2 separate regions of the Homo sapiens genome follow, and region 2 is linked to region 1. Evidence: fine-mapped expression QTL. Tissue or cell type: whole blood. Region 1 holds a variant in brackets; the other region holds the start of a gene. All regions are shown on one strand. Distances are between the middles of the regions. Region 1 overlaps ORAI2 (ORAI calcium release-activated calcium modulator 2). Region 2 holds the start of LRWD1 (leucine rich repeats and WD repeat domain containing 1).

Region 1 (2,807 bases):
GAGTTAGAGGCTGCAGTGAGCTATGAATGTACCACTGCACCCCAGCCTGGGCAATGGAGCGATATCCTGTCTGGGGAAAAAATAAAGTAAAAGATAAAATAAAATAATATATATGAAGATTTCATAATGTCCTTCAGCAACTGCCACCTCTTAGCAGCTCATTTCTTCACCTCGCTTTCAGTGGTGAGGGAACACTTCCTAGATAAAAGAAGATATGGCCGGGTGCCTGTAATCCCAGCACTTTGGGAGGCCGAGGTGGGCGGATCACCTGAGGTCAGGAGTTCGAGACCAGCCTGACCAACATGGTAAAACCCCATCTCTACTAAAAATACAAAAATTAGCTGGGCGTGGTGGTGGGTGCCTGTAATCCCAACTACTCGGGAGGCTGAGGCAGGAGAATCTCTTGAACCCGGGACGCAAAGGTTGCAGTGAGCCAAGATCGTGCCATTGTGCTCCAGCCTGGGAGACAGAGCGAGACTACATCTCAAAAAAGAAAAAAGAAGACATGGCAGTCCTAGTGGACCAGAGCCGAAAAACAACTCAGCAGTAATACAGTTGGGGCCCTTGTGAAACGTATCCAAAAACCAGTAGCCACGGAACATGGGCTGAGGGGTGGTTTTTCTCAGTGTGGCCCTGGGTTGGCTATGGTCACCTCAAAGGAAATGGCCCAAGTGACAAATATTACAAACCACAGAGGCCTCCAAGACAGGAAATAAAGATGATTATGAGGTAGGGGCAGGGCTTGCAAAAAGTGGTTTTGTTCCACCTTAAAAGGAGAAAAGCGGGCGCCTGTAGTCCCAGCTACTTGGGAGGCTGAGGCAGGAGAATGGCGTGAACCCGGAAGGTGGAGTTTGCAGTGAGCCGAGATCGCGCCACTGCACTCCAGCCTGGGCGACAGACAGCGCAAGATTCCGTCTCAAAAAAAAAAAAAAAAAAGGAGAAAAGGGGCTGAGTGAGGTGGCTCACACCTGTGATCTCAGCACTTTGGGAAGCTGAGGCGGGAGATCACTTAAGCCCAGGAGTTCAAGACCAGCCCAGGCAACAAAACGAGACCCCATCTCTATTAAAAAAAAAAAAAAGAAGAAGAAGAAGAAGAAGAAGAAGAAGAAGAAGAAGAAGAA[A/GAAGAAA]AGAGAAGGCAATTTTTCACTGTGTTTATGCAGCATTTTTTAAATTTAAATTAATTTTTTTTTTTTTATTGAGACAGAGTCTTGCTCTGTTGCCCAGGCTGGAGTGCAGTGGCGCTGTCTCGGCTCACTGCAACCTCTGCTTCCCGGGTTCAAGTGATTCTCCTTCCTCAGTCTCCCCAATAGCTGGGACTACAGGCATGCGCCACCACGGCTAATGTTTTTTTTTTTTTTTGAGACGGAGTCTCCCTCTCTGTTGCCCAGGGTGGAGTGCAGTGGCATGTTCTCGGCTCACTCCAACTTCCCCTTTCCGGATTCAAGTGATCCTCCCACTTCAGCCTCCCGAGAAGCTGGGGTTACAGGTGCCAGCCACCACGCCTGGCTAATTTTTGTTTTTTTGTTTTTTGAGACGGAGTCCTGCTCTGCCACCGAGGCTGGAGTGCAGTAGAGCGATCTTGGCTCACTGCAACCTTTGCCTCCCGGGTTCAAGTGATTCTCGTGCCTCAGCCTCCCGAGTAGCTGGGACTACAGGCGTGTGCCACCACGCATGGCTGATCTTTGTATTTTTAGTAGAGATGGGGTTTCACTGTGTTAGCCAGGATGGTCTCCATTTCCTGACCTCGTGATCTGCCCGCCTCGGCCTCCCAAAGTGCTCAGATTACAGGTGTGAGCCACTGCGCCCAGCCTAATTCTTGTATTTTTAGTAGAGACAGTGTTTCACCAGATCGGCCAGGCTGGTCTCCAACTCCTGACCTCAAGTGATCTGCTCACCGTGGCCTCCCAAAGTGCTGGGATTATAGGCATGAACCATGGCGCCCGGCCCTCCTTTTCATATTTTTAGTAGGGACAGGGTTTCCCCATGTTGGCCAGGCTGATCTGGAACTCCTGACCTCAAGTGATCCGCCCACCTCAGCCTCCCAAAGTGCTGGGATTACAGGCGTGAGCCACCCCGCCTGGCCTATGCAGAGGTTTTATGAGGTGGGGCCTTGGATCACTGGTTCTCTGTGTTGGGGGAAGAATACGCATCAAGAACTAAGCTTCAGGTTAGGCATAAGCACGTGTTGCTAGACAAAGGAACAGCTTTGCAATTCTAATGAGGGAAGACACACTATAAAGGGCGAACTCTACCCAGCAATCTGTACCTTTGCCTGTTCCCAGGGCCCTGCCCCGACTCAGCTACAGTTTCTGATGATTTGTATTTGTCACTTATTTTTCCCAGGCTGCCCTGCAGTGTGAAGAACGATCTGACCGGATGGCGCTATGCTAATCTAATCAAGCAGGTGCACTGCGGCTCCCCCAAGGCTCAGCTCCACGCCAGATGGTTCACTTGCTTCCCACTGCAGCTGGTGCTCTGTATCTATGAGTTCCACATCTGCAGATTCAACCAACCGCAGGTCAAAAATACTTGGGGGAAAAAAACAAAATGAAACAACAATATTTCTCCCTTGGTATAAGGTGAAGAAAAAAATAACAATAATTAAAGAAAAAAAAAACCAGCCTGGGCAACATAGCAAGAGCCACCTCTGGTTTTTTTTTTTTCTTTTTTTTTTTTTTGAGATGCAGTCTCGCTCTATGGCCCAGGCTGGAGTGCAGTGATGCAATCTCGGCTCAGTGCAACCTCCGCCTCCCGGGTTCAAGCAATTCTCCGTCTCAGCCTCTGGAGTAGCTGGGATTACAGGCATCTGCCGC
Region 2 (2,792 bases), 22 kb before region 1:
GTAGCACATCAGGCTAGGGGCTGTTGGGGCAAAGAGCCTCTATCAGTCACCCTCCTCAACATCCTCCTGATGTCCAATTCTATCATTCTCCCAATGCCCCCACAGCTCCTAAGCACACAATAATCCTCTCATCCCCTTACCCTGCTGGTCAGCTCCCGATTCAGGTTCTCCACCTGAGAGTAAGTTGAGGACGCATCCTTGCCATTGACCTTACGGAGCGTGGGCAGGAGAAAGGAGACTTTCAGGTTGTCATTGACCTGGGGAAGAGAGGGTGAAGAGCAGTGGCTCAGGAGATGCTGAGCCTGAGCCCAACAGAGTCCTGGCCCCAGGTATGAAGCTGGTGGGAGGCTCCCACTTACCGTCAGGAAGGGGTTGCCCTCCAGGCTGAGTTCCTCGAGCTTGGGGAACTGGCACAAGGCAGTAACATCCCCCAGCTGGTTGTTGGCGCAGCGGAGGACACGCAGGTGGGACAGGCCCAGGTTGTCCGGCAGCGTCTCCAGGTGGTTGTTAGACAGGTCAAGCTCCTGCAGCTGCGTCAGGCGGCACAGGAGTTTGGGGTCCAGGTGCTCGGAAAGCAGCTCCAATCCTGACAGGCTGGAGTTGGGGGCAGAAGGCTTAGGGGGCGGGCAGGCTTTGCACCCTACACCAATCTGCCCCGGGTACCTCAGAAGGCTTTTTCACCTGACATTTCTCGTACAAGTGTAGCCGCCCCGCCCATCCCCCCGTTACTTTATTTTTAGAGACGGGGTGTCACTCAGTCGCCTAGGCGCGATCATAGCTCACAGCTGCCTCCAACTCCTGGGCTGAGGGATCCTCCCGCCTCAGCCTCTCGAGTAGCTGGGACTAGAAGCGCGCGCCACTACTCCCGACTCCACACCACTTAACAAAAAAAAAAAAAAAAAAAAAAAAAAAAAAAAAAAAGCTGCAACTACTTTAGGACTCGGGGGCATCCTAGCCCCCTCTAGGATGCTCTTCCTGATCCTTCGGGGGCTCGTCTGTGCTTCCCAGGCCCTCTAACGATAGCGGCAGGCTGTGCCCCTAACTGTCCGGGCTCCCTTCAGGGGATGAGGCCCCTCGGGGCTCCCGGCGAGCGGGTGGGGCCACGATCTCCCAACAAGAAGACATTTGGACCACTCTGCCGAACCCAGAGGGCGATAACGGGGACAAGCGGGCCGTTGGGGAGGGTCCCCGCTCTTCTCCCCGACCGCCCGGCCCCGAGGACACAGCCTCACCCGCTGCCCGGCTCTTACTCCAGACTCCGGATCTTCCCCAGCCGGTCGCTCTTGGGGCGCCCGCGCTGCATTAGCAGCCGCGCCGAGAGGGGGCCCATGGCGAGGAGGCGCAGCCCGCGCTGACCCAGTCGGCCACCCCGGCGTGTGGCGTCGCCCTGCGTCTCCTGGAGCCCGGCACTGGCGTCCGCGGTAACTGAGCCCAGGAGGCGGCGCCGCGCGAGCCCGTGGGCGTTAACGACCGGAAGGAAGCGGAACCCAGGCCTCGTGCCCCCGCCCGGCGCGGACTACAACTCCCAGCGGCCCCCACGGCCGCGCCTGCGCACTGGCCACGCGGACGGCGCGATGGCGGCGGCTGCCGCCGAGACCCCCGAAGTCCTTCGGGAATGCGGTTGCAAGGGCATCCGGACCTGTCTGATCTGCGAGCGGCAGCGCGGCAGTGACCCGCCCTGGGAGCTGCCCCCAGCGGTAAGGGGTGGGAGAGGGGCCGCGCCCACAAACGTCGCTCTGCATCTGGGGAAACTGAGGTCCAGCTTGGCCATGATAGGGGCCGGGATCGAAGCCTGTGAGGGACCCTTACGGTAGGGGTGATGCAGGGTGAGGAGATGAGGGCTTTAAGGAGCGGGCTTGGGAGTGGGGAAGGAGCTGGAACGTGGGTGGGTTCGATTACAGGTCACCTCGGGGACTCTGGGGGGATCTGCCTGTAAACCTCGACGTAGCCTCTCGGGTCTGGCGCTGGGAGCTTCACGGGCCTGCAGGGAGATGACACGGAAAGGGTCGATCGAGGGTGCTGAATACCAGTCCAACGGTGCCTGAAGGCCGTGGACTGCAATGGGCAAGGAGACAGTGAATTCCAGTTAACTAACGAAAAGGAACTCAAGGATCGCTGCAACCCAGGAGCTGGAGGCTGCAGTGAGCTATGATCGAGCCACCTCACTTCAGCCTGGGCGACAGAGCGAGACTCTGTCTCACAAAAAGAAAATAAATAAAAAAAGAAAAAGAACTCAGCGCCTTTGGGCTGGCATGGAAGGACTGTGGTTGGTTGCAAGGGCATTCCAACCCAGAAAACTGCGTGGGGTAGGAAGGTGGATTGGTGATGCCTCAGGTGAGAGAGATGAGGCTGGAGAGGTTGTGGGGGGGGGGAGGTCTGATCACAGATGCTCCCCGGTGCATCAGCTGAGCAGGCTGGACTTGTCCCAAAGGCCCTGGAGAGCTCTTGAAGGGTTTTAAAGGAGTGATGAAGTCAAATGTGAATTTTAGAAAGATCCTGGGAAGGGAACGGGCAGATATGAAGGTGTGGAGGCTGGTAAGCCAGTGAAGACTGCCCCAACGTCCATGGTAAAAGTGCCCAAGGTCCTATGGAAACAGCATGGCATGCCTCATGAATTAAACATAGAATTACCCATGATCCGCAATCCTGCTTCTGGGTATATATCCAAAGGAACTAAAAGCAGGGTCTGGAAGAGATATTTGCACACCCATGTTCATATTCACGACATTATTCATGACAGCCCAAAGATGGAAGCAAACCAAGCATCTATCAAGATACCTGGGCCGGGTTCA

The links. PIP is the estimated chance that this variant, and not a neighbour inherited with it, causes the effect. A credible set is the group of variants that fine-mapping cannot tell apart.
Region 2: LRWD1 starts here. The variant in region 1 is the best candidate, but not a certain one, in a credible set for the expression of LRWD1 in whole blood (INTERVAL, PIP 0.67).

Annotation. Positions count from the first base shown.
Region 1 is chr7:102,441,404-102,444,210 of GRCh38, reverse strand. All of the region lies in intron 3 of ORAI2 (ORAI calcium release-activated calcium modulator 2), which reads right to left. Among named protein-coding and RNA genes, the nearest start is that of ORAI2, 9.2 kb to the right of the region's middle. The variant A/GAAGAAA (reference allele first, on the strand shown) is at 1,122.
Region 2 is chr7:102,463,619-102,466,410 of GRCh38, reverse strand. It overlaps LRWD1 (leucine rich repeats and WD repeat domain containing 1), which reads right to left and starts at 1,427. Exons shown (of 15, transcript NM_152892.3): 1 at 1,251-1,427; 2 at 360-594; 3 at 141-257. The coding sequence starts at 1,330. ALKBH4 (alkB homolog 4, lysine demethylase) reads left to right here and starts at 1,548. Exons shown (of 3, transcript NM_017621.4): 1 at 1,548-1,697. The coding sequence starts at 1,575. It overlaps MIR5090 (microRNA 5090), which reads right to left and starts at 669; the gene lies at 585-669. RefSeq lists enhancers at 1-499, 777-876, 500-1,026, 1,156-1,805 and a silencer at 1,217-1,646.